3 linked regions of the Homo sapiens genome follow. The protein of the gene in region 2 purifies or fractionates together with the protein of the main gene of each other region. This does not show direct contact. Each region holds a gene or a part of one and is shown on either strand. Other genes may lie near its edges. The genes, in order: SRSF12, GSPT2 and CASC3.

Region 1 (3,651 bases), on a different chromosome or scaffold from region 2:
TTTAATATTAAACATAAAACAAAGTAACTACTGTATTCCCAAATCTGACAGGTATTTCGAGCCTGCTTATGTGCCTTCTAGTGCGATTAGGTGCTTCAGAAGGGGTACCAAAAAAAAGAAACAGCATGATATTCATCTTCATGGAGCTACAATTTAACTGAAGAGACAAAATATTTAGCAATAATAGCTAACAGTTACAGTGCATTTATATGTTAGCCAGTGTTCACCTTACAACCACTTAATTCTTACAATTTCCCTGTGGTTATTTACAGATGATACAGACAGATTATGGGTGATACAGACAGAATTTCAGGTTATTTACAGGTAATACAGGCAGATTACAGGTGATACAGACAGAGTAACCTATCTAAGCTCACTGAGCCAGCAAGTGACAAAGCTAGAAATCAAATTTTCAGTCTCATACTGGTCCATCTTAACCACTACACCCTACTGCTTCATGGTGCTATCATAGGGATTCAGCATCAAGCTATGATCATAAAATGTGGCTCGGGAGAAATAAAGATTCAAAGATGACTAAGAAGCTTCTAGCTTGGACAAATGGAAAAAAGATGGTGTCAGTGACAAAAATTAGAAGAGAGCTAGATCAAGGAGGAAGAAAAGAGGCAAAAGAAGCAACTTTCAGGTTTAGAAATGCAGTATTTGAGGTGATGGTAGAACACTGATAAGAGTTCTATAAGCAACAGAAAATTGTGATTATATGCATATTAATTAGTGTGTATTAATATAATTATTAGAAGCCAGTGACTAAGGCTAGAGATGGGGATTTAGAAATTACATATAAGATTCAACAAAAATTGACTAAGCATCTACTTTTTGCCAGTAGCTCAGTCAACATTATGACATACTTTATTTCATTTAACACTCATAGAACATGTTTTACTATTAGTTTCTGAGGACAGTGACAATGTCTTTTTTCTTTTACTTATTCAGAATTAAGCAAATACTTATTGAGCACCTACCATGTGCCAGGCTCTAGGAATATAATGAGAAACAAGAAAAACACAATTCCTGCTCCCACAGACCATAGACTGGCATAAAGATTCTCAACCTCTCCTGAGTACTGTAATCATCTGTGAAGGGATGTTACAGACAGAGGCACCCCAACCCGATGCATTAATTCTGGACCTAATTAGTGTTTTCCATAGTGAGGCCCAGTTATGTTTAATTTTTTCAGGACTTCACAGGCAATTCTGAGACTGAAGGTTAAGAATCACTGCTAAAGCAGGTGTCTTCACCAGCATATCTCTGTACCTAATGTAGCTGCTGGGCACACAGTAGGTACTCAATATATATTTGCCTATCAATGAAAAAAGAATACATTACTGTTACCATTTAAGAGTTAAGGAGACTGAGGGTGAGAGAAGTTACCTTGCCCAGAGATCTACACAGCCAGTAGTAGAGCTAGGATTCAAATGAAGGTCTTCTGAGACAACCAATCCCATCAACCAAATGTAGTGGCTAAGAGGAAAGGGATCATAGATAATATAAAAGAGGAGGCTGCAGCACTGTGTGCCACAGAGGTCTGGAGTCTGGAAGCCAAGGGTGATGGGAGTCAGATGGAACAGGTCTTTTCAAAAGAGCCAATTCCCATTCACTGTCTCCACTCCCTCACCTGTTAGCTGTTGTTTTATTTTTGCACTTTTGGTATGATCTACTTCAATATTCAAAAAAGTACAGAGAATAATAAACACCCATGTATCTACCAACAAGATTTATTTTCTGGCCGGGCGCGGTGGCTCACGCTTGTAATCCCAGCACTTTGGGAGGCCGAGGTGGGCGGATTACGAGGTCAGGAGATCGAGACCATCTTGGCTAAGAGGGTGAAACCCCATCTCTACTAAAAATACAAAAAATTAACTGGGCGTGGTGGCGGGCGCCTGTAGTCCCAGCTACTCAGGAGGCTGAGGCAGGAGAATGGTGTGAACCCAGGAGGCGGAGCTTGCAGTGAGCCAAGATCATGCCACTGCACTCCAGCCTGGGCAACAGAGCAAGACTCTGTCTCAAAAAAAAAAAATTATTTTCTCCGTATTTGACATACTTGCCATAATTTTCAGTATTTTTAAAGAAATATTATATCCTTCTGTTACCAATGGAGGGTCTTGCCTATGAGTCCTCCAGGTTCTTGGCATTTTTAACAAAGAATTGGACAAAATGCACAAAGCAATGAAAAAATGAAGCAATGAAAGCACAGATTTATTGAAATGAAAAGATACTCCACAGAGTGGGAGCAGGCTCAAGCAAGCCACTCAAGTGCATTGGTTACAGAATTTTCTAGGGTTTAAATACCCTCTAAGGTTTCCCACTGGTTACTCGGTTACACCCTATGTAAATGAAGACTTGGCCCACCACCAGTCTGGTGGAGGGAGGCGACCAATTAGAGGCTGAAGCAAAGCTACAAAGTTACACATGAAGACTTGGCCTGGGACCAGTCTGATTGGTTGTAGGAGGGGACCAGTCAGAGGTACTTTCCATTTTTTATCTGTAATACAGTGCAAAGGGAGTAGCCTCTGATCCTTTTGTTACTTGGGTGTAGAGAGGTGGAGTTCTCCTTTTGATTCAGTTCTAGGAAGTCACTGTGAATCGGCCTTAGGTTCCCTGCCTCCAGACCCTATTCTCCTGCTTCAGTATCACTAGCAAAGAAATTGGTAGGCTGGAGGGTATGCCTACCTTAGCTTCACTACATGTTCTTCAGAGTGGCCCAACCAACTTACATTTCCAAAAACATGTGTTAGAATTCCCACTGTTGCCCAGGCATGGTGGCTGATACCTGCAATACCAGCAGTTTGGGAGGCCAAGGTGGGAGGACTACTTGAGCCCAGGAGTTCAAGATCAGCCTGAGCAACATAGTGAGACCCCCATCTCTACAAAAAATAAAAAAAAATTAGCTGGGCGTGGTGTCTATAATCCCAGCTACTTAGGAGGCTGAGGAAGAAGAATCACTTGAGCCCAGGAGTTTGAGACTGCACTGAGCTATGATCATGCTACTGCACTCCAGTCTGGGAAGACAGGGTGAGACTTGTCTTTTTTTTTTTTTTTTGGAGATGGAATCTTGCTTTGTCACCCAGACTGGAGTACTGTGGCACAATCTCGGGTCACTGCAGCCTCCACTTCCCAGGTTCAAGCTATTCTCGTGCCTCAACCTCCCAAGTAGCTGGGATTACAGGCATGTGCCAGCACACCTTGTTTATTCTATTATTAGTAGAGATGGGGTTTTGTTATGCTAGCTTTTAAAATTCCTCTTGAAAATATGTTGTAGTTTTTGGTGCAAAGGTTCTGCACATTTTTTGTTAACTGTTTTCCTAAGTAAGTATGCCTTTTGATGCTATGGTAAATGCAACTGTTTTTTAAAATTGTCATTGTTTTCAATTGTTTGCTGTTAATATATAGAAATAAAGTTTTTGTAAATTTACCTTATATCCTCATAACTTACTAAACTTATTAGTTCTAGCAGTTTTTTTGTTCATTCCCTAGTATTTTCTATGTAAGCAAATATGTCACCTAAGAATGGTTACTTTTATCTTTCCAATTTTTGTATTTTATATCTTTTTTCTTGCCTTGTTGCACTGGTTAGGACCTGCAATAAAACGTTGGCGGTTGTGAGTGGCAATCTTTTCTTTTTCCTGATTTTAT
Region 2 (3,751 bases):
AAATAAGAGTAGGTGGTGAACTTTTGCTGTCAATTCTCCTCACAGTATCTTGCAGAGGCATCAAGAAAATTGCTTAGTCCTTCTCTGGGACCAATTTCAGAACTTTTCCAATTGCAATGGTCTTACCCTCATCTCTTAAAGTAAAACGACCCATCTGAGGAAAATCTTTGAACGTCTCGAGGCAGATGGTTCCTGCTGTCCTTAAACGAGCAATGCATACTTGATCTTGTTTCACGAAGCGGGGTCGTGTCTTACTTTTTTCTCCTGATTTTTTGTCTACCAAGGAGATTAACGCTGTTATCTCAACTTCCTCAATACAAGTATGAATGTGCAGCACCGCATTATAACCTGGGCAGATGATGGATTTGTGCTCAATAATCACTATCTGAACATCAAACGTGCGTCCAGAATGGCAGAGGTTACTAGGATCACAAAGTATGAATCCTGGAAGAATCTCTTCTTCTTCAATTCCCTTCAGTCTGATTTTGAGGTTTTCACCTGGGGCTACAAAATCAGTTTCAGTATCATCAGAAAGTATTCCAAGAACTTCTACATTGTGCTTGTTTGGCATCATCACGAGCTGCTGGCCTTTAAAAATGGACCCGGATTCCAGCTTTCCCAGGACCACAGTGCCCATATCTTTGTACTTATCCACAATTGGCAGTCTTATTGGTCCATCAATTGATCTGTTGAAGTTTGGCAAGTTATCCAAATACGGAATAAATGGTAATCCAGTGTACCAAGGGCAGAAATCTGACTGCTCTTTAATATTTGCTCCGGTCAGTCCTGAGCAGGGCATAAAGTGAATGTCCTTTTTTGGACTGAAGCCTACTTTTTTCAAAAAGGGCACCAGTTTTTCTTTACATTCTTCATATCTCTCGATGCTCCAATTTACTGTGGGATCATCCATCTTATTAATAAGCACTATTAAATGTTTTACCCCTGCCGTTTTTGCCAACATCGCATGTTCTCTTGTCTGTCCACCTTTTTCAAATCCAGTTTCAAACTCTCCTTTCCTGGCAGAGATGACCAGCACAGCCAAATCAGCTTGAGAAGCACCACCAATCATATTTGGGACAAAACTCTTGTGGCCAGGGGCATCTAAAATTGTGAAATGTTTCCTTTCTGTTTCAAAATAGGCACGACCCACTTCGACTGTTTTACCCTTGTCTCGTTCCTCCTGATTTGTATCTAAGGCCCAGGACAAATACCAGGTTTCTCTGTTTTTTTCCTTAGCTTCTCTTTCATATTTCTCCAGTGTTCTTTTGTCAACCATTCCAGTCAAAAACATTATCTGTCCTCCGATGGTTGACTTGCCAGCGTCTACATGGCCAATGAATACTACATTTACGTGTTCTTTCTTAGGTGCACCTGAGGGTACGATCACAGATTTGGATTTTCTTATTTCCTCTTTTTCCTCCATCATTTCCTGGCCACTTTCTTCTGGGGGCCCTGAATCTCCCGAGGAACCACCCCCAGGCTCGGCTTCACTTACTTCTTTACTGTGCTCCCATGATTCTTCTAGGGCCATTTCCACCTCTCCATTTTCTACAACAGGTTCTGAAAGTTCCATGGTAACGGCTGAATTGGAACCTTCAAGCGACACTAACGGTTCCTCTCGGGAAGGTTCCACAGGTGCCCCCCGTCCCATCCTTTTACCTTGAGGGTATCCCGCGCCGGTGCAGGTTTCATCGTTGCTGCCGGAGCCGGCCGGGAGGGTGGGCGGCTGAGTCGGGCCCCGCAGGAAGGACGGCACGAACTCCGCGGCGTGTACGTTAGGCACGAAGGGCTTGGCGTTGACGTTGAGCTTACGGCTGAAAGCCGAGCTGAGGGGCTCGCGCTGGGCCTCGGCCACCGCAGAGGAGACTCCATCCCCGCTCGGGGCCGACCCCGGGGATTCCATGTCCACCTGGTCCCAGCAATCGGGCGCCGAGTCGCTGCTGCTGCTGCCCGAATCCATGGTCTCGGAACTTGCTGTGTGGCAGTGAGGGAGCGGGCTCAACAGGCCAGAAGAGCGGGCTCCGCCGGCGGGGTTAAGGCAGCAAGAGCGAAGGGCCAAGGGGTAGCGACACGAACCTTAGCTGCACCGCGGAGGCAGCTAAGCGCCGATGCTGCATTCGCAACTGCGGCGGCAGCAGCAGATATGGCGGCTCAACACTCTCCTCTTGTGTGTGAGCGGATCTCCTCCCCCAAACCCCAACCACTTCCGACTCCTCCACCCCCGACCCAACGCCGGGCGTGGATTGACCCCTCGCTGCTATCCGTACGCTTGGCTTCCTTACTTCTTCTTAGCCACGGGCTAAGTCCAAAAGTATTATTTTTTAAAACGAAAATTTCCATTCACTTTTTTGTTCACACAGTCTGGCAGAGCAATTTGACCACAATCTGATGATTAAACCTAGACAGGAACACATGGTATACAATTCTACCAAAAGATTCAAGTAAAAGTGATCATTTCTATTGAACAAATGGGAGGCAAGATAAGGGTTAACTATACAGAAATTCAGAAACCCAGCAACTGAAGGGAGAGGCAAGGAATGGGTAGGGAGGGACTCATGAAATATATGAGTCTGTAGCCGAACTTAGGAAATGCAACTTAAGATCACTCATTAATTTGAAATCCACAGGCCTTTTGATTTTCCCTTTCCAGTGGGCCCCCATAAGCCTGTAACTTCTGCTGATGGCTTCTATAGTTTAAGGATAGGGTTACAACTTCTTTTCATGTTAAGCACCCTGGCTGTCTGAGGGGAGAGAATTTCCAAGGAGATCCTTGTTCCAGTGAAGCTTCCAGTCACTTCATATGCAGATGCCTGCACAATGGCTGGCCTGCCATTCAATGGTGGATCACGTAGACAAGCACAGGACTCAGATCACTCTTGTTTTACCAACCAACTGAATTCTGGGTTTATCTGCACTACTCCCCAGCACCTCCCTAGTACATCCTGCATCCACAGGCCTCGGGTTTTCCTGCTTCATTCCGGGGGGCCTGGAATCCTACTCACTGCACTGGCTTTGCTCTAAGAAACAATCAGTGTCATGTTGAACCCCTCTACAGTTTATGGTAATGAGACAGGGCTGTAGGTGTCAGCCTAATTAAACCAATTAAGACTTCTGAGATGAACAAAGACCTTAAGACCCTAATCAAAAGAATCTCACTCTCAGAAAGTGTTAACAGTTGAGTCAAAGCCTCAGCGACCTTGTTTGTAAATTAATTTAGTGCAAACTGACATAGAAAATACAAACTTATTCTCTGAATCTGTTTTTAGTCTTCATGTACTCAAATCTGTCACCTTTTGCTTTTATGAATTCAGGTTTTGTGACATACCTAGAAAGACTATTCAGTCCAAACAATCTGCTTAGTACAAGATGGTGTCACATAGATGGATTTATTTTTTTATTTTGAGACAAAGTTTCACTTTTGTTGCCCAGGCTGGAGTGCAGTGGCATGATCTCAGCTCACTGCAACTTCTGCCTCCTGGGTTCAAGCAATTCTCCTGCCTCAGCTTCCTGAGTAGCTGGGATTACAGGCGTCCGCCACCAAGCTCAGCTAATTTTTCTTAATATATATTTTTAGTAGAGACAGGGTTTCACCATGTTGGCCAGACTGGTCTTGAACTCCTGACCTCAGGTGATCCACCTGCCTCGGCCTCCCAAAGTGCTGGGATTACAGGCATGAGCCACCACGCCTGGCCTCATAGTTGGATATTTAAATCCAACAACAAAGCAAAATATTATAAAACCAAGTACCTGA
Region 3 (3,651 bases), on a different chromosome or scaffold from region 2:
TCCTTTCTCACATTCACTTTCTTCTCTCTCTAGACTCCATAGCTCATTCATTTCAATCACTACTAGTAACATCCCATTTCTCTTGCCACTCCCATATGCCTGGAACTGGATCAATTCAAATGTCTGCTTTCTCCAGGCCTACAACAGACTACTCCATTGCCAAAGGGGGTTACACACACACACACACACACACACACACACGCACACACTCTTACTTTTTGAAGCAGATGTCATTCTTTTGTTTTTTTCGAGAGTCTCACACTGTTACCCAGGGTGGAGTGCAGTGGTGCAATCATAGCTTGCTGTGGCCTCGACCTCCTGGGCTCAAGGGATCCTCCCACTCCAAGCTCCCAAGTAGCTGGGACATAAGCACACATCACTGCGCCAGGTTGATTTTTTGTAGAGAGAGGGTCTCACTTTGTTGCCCAGATTGGTCTCAAATTCCTGGGCTCAAGCAATCCTCCTGCCTTGGCCTCCCAAAGTGCTTGGATTACAGGTGTGAGCCACCGTGCCTGTCCTGCTCTATCCTTCTATTTCACAAAAACAAAACACAGAAAGGAACGCTAACTTCCTTTCCTTCCCACTTCTTTGTAATTACAATGGAAGATACTTCTCATCTGGTTCCTACATCTTCTCATGTACTTAGTCAAGAATACCAGTACTTAATATTATTATCTATTCCCTCTTTTTTTTCCCTTTTTTTTGAGACGGAGTCTCGCTCTGTCGCCCAGGCTCAAGTGCCCGCCACCATGCCCGGCTAATTTTTTGTATTTTTAGTAGAGACGGGGTTTCACCATGTTAGCCAGGATGGTCTCGATCTCCTGACCTCGTGATCTGCCCGCCTCGGCCTCCCAAAGTGCCGGGATTACAGGCGTGAGCCACCGCACCCAGCTTTTCCCTCCTTTCTAATCTTCCTTTGCACATACCTTTCCTTCCCACTTCTCTGTAATTACAATGGAAGATGTTAATCTTGTCTGGTTCCTACTTTTTCTCATATACTCAGTCAAAAATACCAGTACTCAATATCATTATCTATTCCCTCTCTTTTTTCCCCCTTTCTTTTCTTTTTTTCAATCTTTGACCTTATTTGATACTCTCCTAACTTTTTAAAAAACATCCAAATCACCTCTTGATCTCAAAGCTACCTCTCCAACTACCATCTCTTCAGCCTTCCCTCAGTCAAATTTCTTTAACAAGTTTTTTTGGCCAGGCACAGTGGCATGAACCTATTGTCTCAGCTATTCAAGAGGCTGATGAGGATTGTAAGTTCAAGTTCAAGCTCAGCTTGGGCAAAATAAGGAGACCCATTTGCCAAAAAAAAAAAAAAAAGAATTCTTGGAAGACTCTCAGAAAATGGCAGTGGCACAGTTTTATCTCTCTTCAAATCTCCACATGGAATGAGAGCTCTGGACAGCAAAACCGAGACCCAAACCAAAACCCTGGCCAGACACAGTGGCTCACGTCCATAATCCCAACACTTTGGGAAGCCGAGGTGGGTGGATCACCTGAGACCAGGAGTTCGAGACCAGCCTGGCCAACATGGTAAAACCGCGTCTCTACTAAAAATGCAAAAATTAGCCAGGCATGGTGGCACGCACCTGTAATCCCAGCTACGCAGGAGGCTGAGGCACAAGAATAGCTTGAATCTGGAAGGCAAAGCCACTGCACTCCAGCCTGGGCGACAGCAAGACTCTGTCTCAAAAAATAAAAAAGAAACCAAAACCTTCAGACAACACTGCAACAAAGTTAAGTTACCAGGTATCCCCCAAGACCCAAAATGTAAGTGCATAACAAAGCACCAACAGCTGTAGGACCTGTATAGTACTGGTGTCCACGCAGGAGAAAGCAGAGAGAAAGCAAATGGACCTGAGAACAGGAGAACACTGAAATAATCAACAGGCAGTCAAGGGAAAGCACAACAGTCAAAACTGAGAACAGCACTTACAACTAGCAAGGGGGCCACACACGGTGGCTCATGCCTGTAATCCCATCACTTTGGGAGGCCAAGGTGGGTGGATCATCTGAGTCAGGAGTTCGAGACCAGCCTGGAAAACATGGTGAAACCTCATCTCTACTAAAAATACAAAAATTAGCTGGGCACGGTGACACACGAGGTCCCAGCTACTCAGGAGGCTAAGGCAGGAGAATCGCTTGAACCCAGGAGACGGAGATTGCAGTTAGCTGAGATTGCGCCACTGCACTCCAGTCTGGGCGACAGAGTGAGACTCTGTCTTAAAAAAAAAAAAGGTCTGAAGGGATGAAGCTGACCTGGCTGCCAGGGCTTCCTTCTGGGGACAGGGCCCTACACTGTCCCTAGAAGGGAGTTCCTAGAAGAGAAACTGTTGAGAGCAGGACCAAATTCAGTAGGACAGGGATGGTCCAGAACAAGCTGGGAAAGGGAACAAAAGCAACAAATCTCAGAAAGCAAGCCACCATATTTCTCACCACCACAGAAAAACAACAGAAGCAGCTCTGTGAAGTTAGAAAAAGCTATTCTAAATCATGCTTCCTTCGAAAAGACCAGGAAAACTAATTTTACATAAAAATGAACAGAAAATACAGAAGTTAAATCCCATAAAGTTATAATAAGAAAAAATAATAGCATTCCTACAGACAATGAAAGCATGCCAGAAAGACATCCGCATATCATATCAAAATTGCAACTTCTATTTCAAAATAAGCTAAAAAGACATTAAGAAAATTATATAAGGCATGAAAGAACATCAATCAGAATTGGAAAAACTCAAAAATGAAATGAGAACTCAGAAAGGTATGAGCAATTAGGAATCAAAAACTATTTACCAGGTATCACCACCTAAAAGTCCCACACCTTCTCGATCTCAAAACATCCAAAACCTAACCCACAACTGTCCTTCCAGAACTCTTCTCCTGGGGTCCCTTCCTTAACAGTTAACACCATTCAACACCATTCATCAACCTGCACATTCCTTTGACTCCTTTTTCTTTTTCTGAGTCAGGGTCTCACTTTGTTGTCCAGGCTGGAGTGCTGTGGAGTGATCACAGCTCTACTGCTTTGACCTCCCTGGGCTTAGATGATCCTCCTGCCTGAACCTCCTCAGTAGCTGGGACCACAGGCCTGCGCCACCAAGACCGGATAATTTTTTTTTCTACTTTTCTTTTGTAGAGACAGGATTTTTCCATGTTGCCCAGGTGGGTCTCAGGCTCCTGGGCTCAAGCAATCCACCTGCCTCAGCCTCCCAAAATGCTGTGATTACAGGCATGAGCCAAGGTACCTGGCCTCCTTTGACTCCTTAATTTAGGTTCCACATTCAATCAATGAAGGGGTTGTTAGTACACTAGAATCTCTCTCTAATCTGTCCCACATCTTGCCATTCCAACAAGTATGAACCTTCTTTAGGGGCACCATCGTCATGCTCCTTGGACTATCCTAACAACCTCTAAACAGCTCTTCTGCCTCTAGTCTTCCTTTGTGCCTCACCCACAATTCATCCCCCACATTTAAGCCTTCAGTGGTACTTCTTTCCTAGCCATTAGGAAAACATCCAAACTCCCTTACATATAGAATGGTAAGCTGCTATAAATTCACAATCCCCAAAACTCAATGAACACTCCATATTGCCTGTCAGTTTCTCCAACGTTTCCATTCTCTAGTGACTACAGACGGTCCCT

What was found.
Region 1: the proteins of GSPT2 (region 2) and SRSF12 purify together in Homo sapiens (affinity purification with mass spectrometry; 2 studies listed by BioGRID and IntAct, with this or other methods). This does not show direct contact.
Region 3: the proteins of GSPT2 (region 2) and CASC3 purify together in Homo sapiens (affinity purification with mass spectrometry; 2 studies listed by BioGRID and IntAct, with this or other methods). This does not show direct contact.

What each region holds. Positions count from the first base shown.
Region 1 is NC_000006.12:89,108,068-89,111,718, forward strand, and holds part of SRSF12 (serine/arginine-rich splicing factor 12), read right to left. Parts: intron 1-3,651. UniProt on the Homo sapiens protein: Splicing factor that seems to antagonize SR proteins in pre-mRNA splicing regulation.
Region 2 is NC_000023.11:51,741,836-51,745,586, reverse strand, and holds the start of GSPT2 (eukaryotic peptide chain release factor GTP-binding subunit ERF3B), read right to left. Parts: upstream 2,146-3,751; 5' UTR 1,961-2,145; coding exon 74-1,960; 3' UTR 1-73. UniProt on the Homo sapiens protein: GTPase component of the eRF1-eRF3-GTP ternary complex, a ternary complex that mediates translation termination in response to the termination codons UAA, UAG and UGA.
Region 3 is NC_000017.11:40,146,966-40,150,616, reverse strand, and holds part of CASC3 (protein CASC3), read right to left. Parts: intron 1-3,651. UniProt on the Homo sapiens protein: Required for pre-mRNA splicing as component of the spliceosome. Core component of the splicing-dependent multiprotein exon junction complex (EJC) deposited at splice junctions on mRNAs.